Regions from separate parts of the Homo sapiens genome. Here region 2 is linked to region 1. Evidence: fine-mapped expression QTL. Tissue or cell type: whole blood. Region 1 holds a variant in brackets; the other region holds the start of a gene. All regions are shown on one strand. Distances are from middle to middle.

Region 1 (5,381 bases):
GAACTCTCCCATCCTTGTCACCATTTCACAGCATGTGCCTGGATCACACCATGGTCTTTTGCTCACCTCCGTTCTCCTCATGTCATGTCTATCCCTCTGCCTGATCCTGCTGTCTCTCCTTGTGGTATCCAGATATTGCCTGGTCTTGTCTTCCCCTTCAGTGATGGTCTCCCAGTCTCCACTGATAATCTTTTCTTTTTTGAGACAGTGCCTTGCTCTGTCACCCAGGCTGGAGTGCAGTGGTGTGATCTCAGCTCACTGCAACCTCCAACTTCCGGGTTCAAGCGATACTCCTGCCTCAGTTTCCCGAGTAGCTGGGATTACAAGTGTGCGCCACCACGCCTGGCTAATTTTTTGTGTTATTAGCAGAGAGGGGATTAGTCATGTTGCCCAGGCTGGTCTTGAACTCCTGAGCTCAGGGAATCCGCCCACCTCAGCCACCCAATATGTTAGGATTACAGGCATGAGCCACTGTGTCCAGTCTCCACTGATATCTTGATTCTCAAAATTCTTTTTTTTTTTTTCCTGAGATGGAGTCTTGCTCTGTCACCCAGGCTGGAGTGCAATGGTGTGGTCTCGGCTCACTGTAACCTCCGCCTCCCAGGTTCAGATTCTCCTGCCTCAGCCTCCTGAGTAGCCAGCACCGCAGGCATCCACCACCACTTCCGGCTAATTTTTGTATTTTTAGTAGAGACGGGGTTTCCCCGTGTTGGCCAGGCTGGTCTCGAACTCCTGACCTCAGGTGATCCACCCGCCTTGGCTTCCCAAAGTGCTGGGATTACAGGTGTGAGCCACCACTCCCGGCCATCAAAATTCTTAATTTAGCACCTCATAGAATAATGGGATTTTATGGCTGAAAGGGATTGTAGAAGTAATCTGGTTCTTTGGTCTTTCATTTTATTCTGATTATTTTTGAGACAGGGTCTTGCTCTGTTGCCCAAGCTGGGGTGCACTGACATTCTTATGGCTCACTATAGCCTCGACCTCCCTGGCCCAGGTGATCTTCCCACCTCAACCTTCTGAGTAACTGGGACTATAGGCACACACCACCATGTCCAGCTTGTTCTTAATATTTTTTTCATTTTTTTGTAGAGATGGGGTTTCACTATGTTGCCCAGGCTGGTCTCAAATTCCTGGCCTCAAATGATCTTCCTGCCTTGGCCTCCAAAAGTGTTGGGATTACAGGCGTGAGCACCTTGCCCTGCATGTTTTATTATGTTTAATAATGAGGCATTGAGGCCTAGGAAAGCTTGGTGATTTGCTGTGAAGTAAATACCAGGATAATGGCAGAACTGAAACTAGAACTGATGTCTCTAGAATCTTAATTCACGATGCTTCCTTTTTCACTGTGAAAGCACATGGTATGTTATTGAGAGAAATTACTATTTGCAAAGGTTGGCTCTTATTATGCTAGTAGTATTAGTCAAATGTCTGGGTTGTACTTGAGAAGGGAAAAATTAGTGTAGAAAGGTGTTTTCTGCCTTCAAAGATCTTCCCATTTTAAAGGTAAGAAAATCTTGCTGATAGCTGGCTGTCTCCTTTGGGTACAAATTCCTGCTTAAAAAAAAAAGCCAAATATATGGTTATTCTTTTTCTTTTTCTTTTTTTTTTTTTTTTTTTTTTGAGACGGAGCCTCATCTGTTGCCCACGCTGGAGTGCAGTGGTGTGATCTCAGCTCACTGCAACCTCTGCTTCCTGGGTTCAAGTGATTGTCCTGCCTCAGCCTCCCGAGTAGCTACAGATGAGTGCCACCACACCCGGCTAATTTTTTTTTTTTTTTTTTTTTTTTTTTTTTTTTTTTTAGACGGAGTCTCGCTCTGTCACCAGGCTGGAGTGCAGTGGCGCAACCTTGGCTCACTGCAACTTCCGCCTCCTGGTTTCAAGCGAGTCTCCTGCCTTAGCCTCCCGGGTAGCTGGGACTACAGGCGTGTGCCACCATGCCCAGCTATTTTTTTTTTGTAATTGATTTGTATTTTTTTATTTTTTATTTTTATTATTATACTTCAAGTTTTAGGGTACATGTGCACAACGTGCAGGTTTGTTACATATGTATACATGTGCCACGATGGTGTGCTGCACCCATTAACTCGTC[A/G]TTTAGCTTAGGTATATACCAATGGAACAGAACAGAGCCCTCAGATATAATGCTGCATATCTACAACTATCTGATCTTTGACAAACCTGACAAAAAGAAGAAATGGGTAAAGGATTCCCTATTTAATAAATGGTGCTGGGAAAACTGGCTGGCCATATGTAGAAAGCTGAAACTGGATCCCTTCCTTACACCTTATACAAAAATTAATTCAAGATGGATTAAAGACTTAAATGTAAGACCTAAAACCATAAAAACCCTAGAAGAAAACCTAGGCAATACCATTCAGGACATAGGCATGGGCAAGGACTTCATGTCTAAAACACCAAAAGCAATGGCAACAAAAGCCAAAATTGACAAATGGGATCTAATTAAACTAAAGAGCTTCTGCACAGCAAAAGAAACCACCATCAGAGTGAACAGGCAACCTACAGAATGGGAGAAAATTTTCGCAACCTACTCATCTGACAAAGGGCTAATATCCAGAATCTACAATGAACTCAAACAAATTTACAAGAGAAAACAAACAACCCCATCAAAAAGTGGGCGAAGGATATGAACAGACACTTTCTCAAAAGAAGACATTTATTCAGCCAAAAAACACATGAAAAAATGCTCATGATCACTGGCCATCAGAGACATGCAAATCAAAACCACAATGAGATACTATCTCACACCAGTTAGAATGGCAATCATTAAAAAGTCAGGAAACAACAGGTGCTGGAGAGGATGTGGAGAAATAGGAACACTTTCACACTGTTGGTGGGACTGTAAACTAGTTCAACCATTGTGGAAGACAGTGTGGTGATTCCTCAAGGATCTAGAACTAGAAATACCATTTGACCCAGCCATCCCATTACTGGGTATATACCCAAAGGATTATAAATCATGCTGCTATAAAGACACATGCACACATACATTTATTGTGGCACTATTCACAATAGCAAAGACTTGGAACCAACCCAAATGTCCAACAATGATAGACTGGATTAAGAAAATGTGGCACATATACACCATGGAATACTATGCAGCCATAAAAAATGATGAGTTCATGTCCTTTGTAGGGACATGGATGAAGCTGGAAACCATCATTCTCAGCAAACTATCCCAAGGACAAAAAACCAAACACCGCGTGTTCTCACTCATAGGTGGGAATCGAACAATGAGAACACATGGACATAGGAAGGGGAACATTACACATCGGGGACTGTTGGGTGGGGAGGGGGGGAGGGATAGCGTTGGGAGATATACCTAATGCTAAATGACGCGTTTTTTTTTTTATTTTTGTAGAGACGGCATTTCACTATGTTAACCAGGATGGAAACAAAAAACAAAACAAAACAAACAAACAAAAAATATATATATATATACACACACACATACTTTTAGGTCAAAAAAATATATATATATACACACACACATACATACACACACGCATACTTTTAGGTCAAAAAAATGTCAGTTCGTGCTATTTAATATACTAATTTAGTCATACACATTTAAGATAACAATAAGAAAAATTCATTTTCCCCCCCACATACTCACCTCTCAACAGAGCATTTCTATTCTATTTTTCTTCACAAATATCTTTGACACCAATGTCTTTCTTATTCCTGGAGCCATTTTTTGAGTCATCAAGTAGATTCCCAAAGTAACTCATCCATACCCTTGGTTGTAAGATCCTGTCACTAGGATTTTCATCCTAAGCCACAAGCACCCATTTACCAAACATTGGATTTCCATTTGTTCTGTAGTATGTATATTATATGATTCAATATAATAACTCACTTACTGTCTTTTTCAAGTAATATTTAAAAGGCATGTTTATAGATAGATCCAGACCTTCCAGTTGTTAGGACATAGCTCAGAAATTGTTTTACGTTCTTTGCTTTTTTCAAAAAATAAAGCAGTGCTCTCAGGTTGCTTTCTTAAATATTGAAAACTAACACTGATTAAATTCCACGCTTCTGTGCCATCCCCAAATTTTGTATATTATTTTTCACAGTGAAGTCACTGAGAGACACTGGATCATATTAGAGTCTCAATAAAAGCTCAAATATAAGGCCAGTCCTTCTTTTCTACGGTGTAATCTTGGGGGAAGGGGAACCTTGACCTAAATTTAGATATCTTTGGTAACTCCATGCGGGGAAGCCTGTGTCCATGGACTTCCTCCTGATTGCTGTATTTTATGGCATTTGCTCAGATGTGACACTGAAGAAGTAAGTGGGTCATTATCAGTGCTATACCACTGTCCCTGAGGGAAACCCAGCCTGTGTCCTAATGATAGATACTGTCAGCCTTAACATGTTCATGTATCAGAAATCTTTTTATTTTCCTACACAAACAATATTTGCCATTGTGCTGCCGAATTGGAGTGACAGAGAATCGCACTGTGTTTGTTTAGACTTAAAAGCCTAGAGGGCTTGTGGAGCTATGCTAAAAATGGCATGGAGTGAGTACAAACAACTTCTTCACTCCGTGCACATTGATTTCTCCCTTGAGATCTTTTCTGTGTCTCTGTTGAATTTGTAGAAATGTCAAAGTCAAACTTTAAAGTCAAACTTTAAGAAAATCACCTTTTTTTCCCCCTGGTAGAATAGCTAATACAATAGTTAGCATATTTATATTTTCAGAAAGTTCAGACATGTCTGCTTTTGCAAATCATAGAATTGTGATAATTGGGAAAAATGATATCCATTAGAAACCCGTTAGGCCCTCTTATATGTTGCTGGTGAGAGTGCAAAGTAATATACAGTGATCTTTGAATTCAGAAGCCACTTGTGTTTTAAATGTGATGCTTTTCTGTAAATGCAGAATTCTTATAATCTGAAATTTGTCTCCCTTGTATCTACTGTTGTTTCCAGGGCTGTTCAAAGACTTCCCTTTTCACATTTGCATTTCTTGAGTATCCTGTGGTTTTCATAATAAAATGCAGCTTCTTCAGGGCTCCTGAGGGTGTGGAAGGCAGGTCCTTTGCTGGGCTGATTGCTCTTTTGGGGTCCTGGAGCCGCTACACATCCTAGAGAGTAGAACTGGGAACAGATTTACAGTTTCAGTCTCCTCACAGGACTCTAGGATGGTGGTAGAATTGTTTTATTAGTTTATAGTCACTGTAGTAGGATTTACCGGAAATTGTTCTTACTCCTTGCTTTGGAAAAAATAATGTGTGATATTACAATCTTCGTTACTAAAAGCCTTCTTTTCTCTGTAGGATCAAAGTGCTTGACTTTGTTGGTTGAAATCCACCCTGTTAACAATGTGAAGGTTCTAAAGGCTGTGGATAGCTATATTT
Region 2 (5,381 bases), 27 kb before region 1:
TTGAAGATTCTGATTCTCTGCATTGCTTCACCTCTTTTCTTGCCTTGTGCTTGCATCTCTACTATAGTGTAAGCACCTTTATCTCCTCCCTTTAGCTGATTCTCTGTGGCTTGCTACTAAAACTTGTGACTCATGGCGTGGTTCAAACTTCTGGAATCAATATTTACCTCCATTTTAGATTTCTCCTCACATACCGACCTTTAGCTCTGGTATATCTTCAAAGCTAGCCATTTCATGCATTTCCTCACCTGGCCCTCTCTATGGTGGACAGTAAGGCAGCAATACAGAGGTGGAAAGCTCCTCACATTAAGTAGCAGAATGTTGCTATTCAAAATGTCATCTGTGGACCAGCAGCTTTGGCATGACCTGGAAACTCGTTAAAATGTAGACTCTTCAGCACCACCTCACCCTGCTGAATCAGAATCTACCTTTTATCAAGATCCTTAGGTGATTTGAATGCTCATTAAAGTTTGAAAATCCCTGATTTAAGATGCTTTTGGCACAAGTAACAGAAAACCCAACTCAAACTGGCTTGCATGATACGTAGAATGACTTTCAGGTGATCTAATCCAGAGGCCCTTAGGTTTTCAGGGCTTTGCAACAAACTCTTTTTGCTTATCTGAGCTGTTTCCTGTAAGCCTACTCCCTCAACATAACTTCATTTTATGTTAACAATACAAAATATAGAATGTGTTCTAATAAGTGTTCAAACACAAACCTATTATTATAGTGCTCTTTGGCCTGTGCCCTAAATTTTGAAATGATCACTCCTTAAAATTGAAACCCTTGGTTGCAAGTAAAATAAAAGTCTGACTGAATATCATTTAAACAATAGGAAATTCAACATCTCTAATATCAGAAAGGGCAGAGGATGGCTCCAAAAATAATTTACCAAGGTTTCTCTTCTCTGCAGTTCTCTGGACTCTCCTGACTCCAATGACTCCATTTTCAGTGTGCTAGATGGCTGAAATTCCAGCAATCATATCTAGATCCCGAAATAGTTAAAGACTGAAAGGGACCATCTTTTCCCATGTCTCTTGTTTTAAGAATAGAGAAATCTGTCATAGCAGAGGTTTCCTTACAACTCAGTGGCCGGAATCGGGTATCATACTCTGACAGAGATCTCTAATTGCTTCTGAATATCTACTTTCCCCACCTTCTTCAGTAATACCGTCCTGATTTTTATCTGGGCACAGCAATGGCCAGGTATATTTCCTTGCCTCCCTTGAAAGCTACATTTGGCCATGTGACTAAATTCTGGTGAGTGAAACATACGTAGAAATGTTGTGTAGAACTTCCGGGAAGTATCCTTAAAAGAGAGGTAGCATCCTCTTTTTATTCCTCTTCTTCCATTCTGATTTCTGGAATGCAGACGTGAAGGCTGAAGCTTCTGCAGCCCTCTTTGATCATGAGGACAAGGGTACACTCAGGATCAGGTGGAGCAAAGAACTGGAAGGAGCCTGGGTCCCTGATAAATTCAGGAACCTGCCCTAAGAGCTTTATTCTGCCTACGTCCAGCTAGGTGACAGAATAAAACTTGTGTGTTTAATTTACTGTTAATCTGAGTTCTTATTAACTTCTGGAGAATCTAATCCTAACTGATACACATGCCTTCATATAGCACCCTCATGATTTTGGCCACATCTTTCTATCATTATCTTATTGTTTCTCACCTTCTTTACATTGGCTTTTTCACTTAATTTGAAGAGAATTTTTTATATCATCACTGCTTGACTATAAAATCAGTCCTGCCTGGCAAAAATAGAAGTTAACTGCAAAAATAAAAACAATGGAAATGTACTGACTTTAAAAAATTGGCCAACAGTGTTTCTGTATGACAAAGGCAACAAGCTTATTTGATATGAAATAGTTGCATTAGCTCCTTGGGGGCTCCAGTGGCCTTCCTTTTATTCACTGATAATATTAGCAGCTTCATTAGGCATTTATCTTAAATTTGCATGCACTTCCCGGGTGGGAGGACTTTCCTCTGTATATGGTGGTGAGTAATGGAGTTCTACCTGAAATCATCCATTACCTCAGTTGGAGAAACATGTCTCTAGGAGGGAAAAAAATTCAAGACTTTCTTTTACATTTGGTTGGAGTAGTTTTCAAACTTAGTAAGCCTAAGAATCACCCGAGGCTCTGGGTAAAATGCACGTTTCTGGTCTTGTCCAGGTGTAGAGATCAGGAGTCTGCATTGTAAAATAGTGCCCCAGATGACGTCAATACAAGTAGTTTTCAGACCTTAATTTCGGAAGCATGTGAAAAAGCATTCTTTATTACTGTATTCACTCATTCTTCAGTAATTGTCGAGCACCTTCCAGAGTGCTCTGTTAGACCCTGGTGGGAGGCAGAGGGTTTGCGTGGAGACTTAAGATTCAGTTTTCATGTCTCAAGGCATCAAATGAGATGTACTAGAGTTAAAAGGCAAAAAGGACGCTGTTTGTATCAAGCGCATTAACCCCTTTTAGCGTTTCTCTTACAATGGGATCACCTTCGTCATACGCTCCCAGTTGCTACTCATTACCTTAATAACACTAATAAAGCACCACCACCTCGAAGCTGGGGCGAATAGGCCCAAGAGACGGCCTACTTCTGTGGTGACCCTGAACTGCTCCAGAGGACCCAGCTCTCTCAAGCCAAGTGGTTTCCACACTTTGCTGCACAGTGGAGGCACTTGTAGAATAAAGAAAATAGGCCGACCCTCCAGGTTTGGAAGCCACTGGGCTAGCGGCCTCGCCAAGGCCCTGAAGCGCCCACGTCTTTGCGCCCTCTATCCTCAGCCCCGAAGGTGCGCGCGGAGGCCTCCCGCCCCGGCGGGCCTGGTCCTGGCGCCTGGTCCACCCCGCCCCACCGCTACCCGCCGTGCCCGGCTCCGGCTCCGGCTCAGGTGCGGGCCGCCGGCCGGGAGGAGCTGGTGCCGGAGCTTCTCAGGCCAGGGCGCTGCAGAACCGAAAGCAGCAGGGGGCGGGGGAGAGGAAAGAGGGGGCGGGAGCGGGGACGCGAGGGCGAGGCGGCCACGCGGGGCCGGGAATGCCCGCGGTGCGGGGCCCCAGAGCCGCCCGGTGGTCGTGTCCGGGCGATGGCTCTTCGCCTGGTCGCCGACTTCGACCTCGGGAAGGACGTGCTCCCGTGGTTGCGGGCGCAGCGGGCAGTGTCGGAGGCCAGCGGGGCCGGAAGCGGCGGCGCAGGTGCGGGAGGCGCGCTGCGGAGAGGGGTGGGGGCGGGGAGTGGGAGTCCCTCATACCCCCCGGACTCCGACCCGGTGGGGAGCAACCCGGGGCGTCGCCGCCCTGAGAAGGCTGGTGCGAGGGCGTCGCTCCCCTCCTCAGAGGGCTGTTTTGGCTTTGCCACCCACACCCAGCCACGGCGGAAGGTCTGGGGGCAGAGCCCGGGCCAGGTCGCCGTGGGGCCTGAGGCGCCTGGCTCGCTGCCGGCCCGCGGAAATTCGCCCTTGGCAGAGGGGCCGGGCCGCTGGCGGTTCCCTCAGCATCACCTCACGGCGAGGGCAGAGGGTCGTGCTCAGCTCAGCGGCCGCATCCCACCTCCCGGGGGGTTCATCGGCAGCGCAGGGGCTTTGCCAAGACAGGAGTGCTCCTGGAAGCTTCACGTTTTGAGAAAGAATCCGTGACCACCAAGCAAACCACCCTATACCTAACGGTGGAACAGTTTGTCCCCACATTTGCGAGACGTGTTTATGTGTCTGTTGAACCGTGTCCGTGGCTCAGGGGACATGGGCCTCGGCGGTGAGGCGCAAGAGGGCAGGGGCCGCCTCCAGGCTGCGCGCGGCGGGGCGAGAGCCCCCAGCCGCCCCCGAGCTCCGCACCTGTGCAGGCTGGGGCTGCGCGCGAGATGCTCGGCTCCCGGCCCTGCCACTCCGGGCTTTTTGATGATTTGGTAAGGGAGTGAAAGTGACTTTTGAGCCTTCCCAGCACTGATCTGTTTTAAAGAAGGGGAACTTTGTGATTTCTTACAAAGTTTTAAAAGTCTTCTATAAATATTGGAGCTTCAGAGCTTAAATGCAGCTTCAAAGCAATGATGCCTGTAGGTCTCACCTTGTGTGTAGGGCGCTGTCCACTTCAGTGAATTTGGAAGTGGGTATTAAATGACCCACATCTACAACTCCTTTCCCTTAAACGCTGGTGAAAGTTTTCTTGATGTGAGTTATATATCAAGTTGCTATCTTGTATCTTCACACTCTCCTATGACTATAGCGAAATTATTTGTAGGTTTCCTTGGCTTGGAATATTATTAGCTCCAAATAAGGAGTTATATGTTTGTGTAGCGTATGCATTGAGTTTGCATTAGTGTCATGCTTAGTAAGGCTTTACTTTTTTTCGAGGTGGAGAGGGTGGTCAAGGAAGAATTTTATACAAAAATTAGCTGGGCGTGGTGACACGCTCCTGTAATCCCAGCTACTCGGGAGGCTGAGGCAGGAGAATCGCTTGAACCTGGGAGGCAGAGGTTGCAGTGAGCCGAGATCTCGCCACTGCACTCCAGCCTGGGCAACAGAGTAAGTCTCCGTCTCAAAAAAAAAAAAAAAAAAAAAAAAAAAAAAAGTCGCCCACATGTCTGAAAAGTTTTTGAAGGCTTAACTTTTTGAAATACAACAGGCAGCTCTGTCTTCTACTACCAAGTACTCCTTTTTCTGGACTCCCACTTTATTTTGCTAAATGGCAGGTGTCTGCAAATGAGAAGTTAGATGAGTGTGAAATGCCACAGTCTTATGTTTCCGTAATGTGTGTCGTGCTTGAAAAGCTGTGTGTGACCCACTGGGACCTGGCTTCCTTGTATCTTTCGCTCATCTCTGAAGAAATATAAACTTGTGTATTGACCTTCCACTAAACAACAGATAGCTCTAGGTCCTCAGAAGGTACTTTCTGGAAATACTAGCTTTTCTGATACTGGTAGTATTTTGCTCTTTCAGAGCAAATATCTTGGTAAGATATTAGCCCTGTTATACTAAGAGAATTATCACCTCTGATAATCACCAGTGGGTGGTAGCTCAAAAATACCCCCACACAAATTAATTCCTGTTCTGTAATTTATAGCAGTGGCAGGGAAATCTGGGATTCTGTCTCATTTCTAGCACAGCAGTTACAACACACATTTGTGGAAATCATTATCCTTTCAAAGTTCTGGCTTTTCAAATGTAAATTATGAATTACTATACCATTGTAATGCCTCCTCTATGCATACTTGCTTTCTGAATTTGAAGCCTTAATGTTTTTACATCAACAAATACAATTGAAGTTTTCTTAGAGGTGCTAAGTAATTCTCATGAGATATGTATGATATATTCCTGGCAAAACAGAGAGCTGGGCTGAGTCAGCCATGGAAATTCTGTGCCTGTAAGCATTTTGGTCAATAAGGGGTCAAGG

What was found. PIP is the estimated chance that this variant, and not a neighbour inherited with it, causes the effect.
Region 2: GSAP starts here. The variant in region 1 is fine-mapped to the expression of GSAP in whole blood (INTERVAL, PIP above 0.99).

Annotation. Positions count from the first base shown.
Region 1 is chr7:77,387,368-77,392,748 of GRCh38, reverse strand. GSAP (gamma-secretase activating protein) reads left to right here. Exons shown (of 31, transcript NM_017439.4): 6 at 5,301-5,381. Among named protein-coding and RNA genes, the nearest start is that of GSAP, 26 kb to the left of the region's middle. RefSeq lists an enhancer at 1-206. The variant A/G (reference allele first, on the strand shown) is at 2,093.
Region 2 is chr7:77,414,023-77,419,403 of GRCh38, reverse strand. It overlaps GSAP (gamma-secretase activating protein), which reads left to right and starts at 3,055. Exons shown (of 31, transcript NM_017439.4): 1 at 3,055-3,191. The coding sequence starts at 3,083. It overlaps LOC101927243 (a long non-coding RNA gene), which reads right to left and starts at 4,206. Exons shown (of 5, transcript NR_110073.1): 1 at 4,056-4,206. RefSeq lists silencers at 2,760-3,109, 3,330-3,539, 3,600-3,889.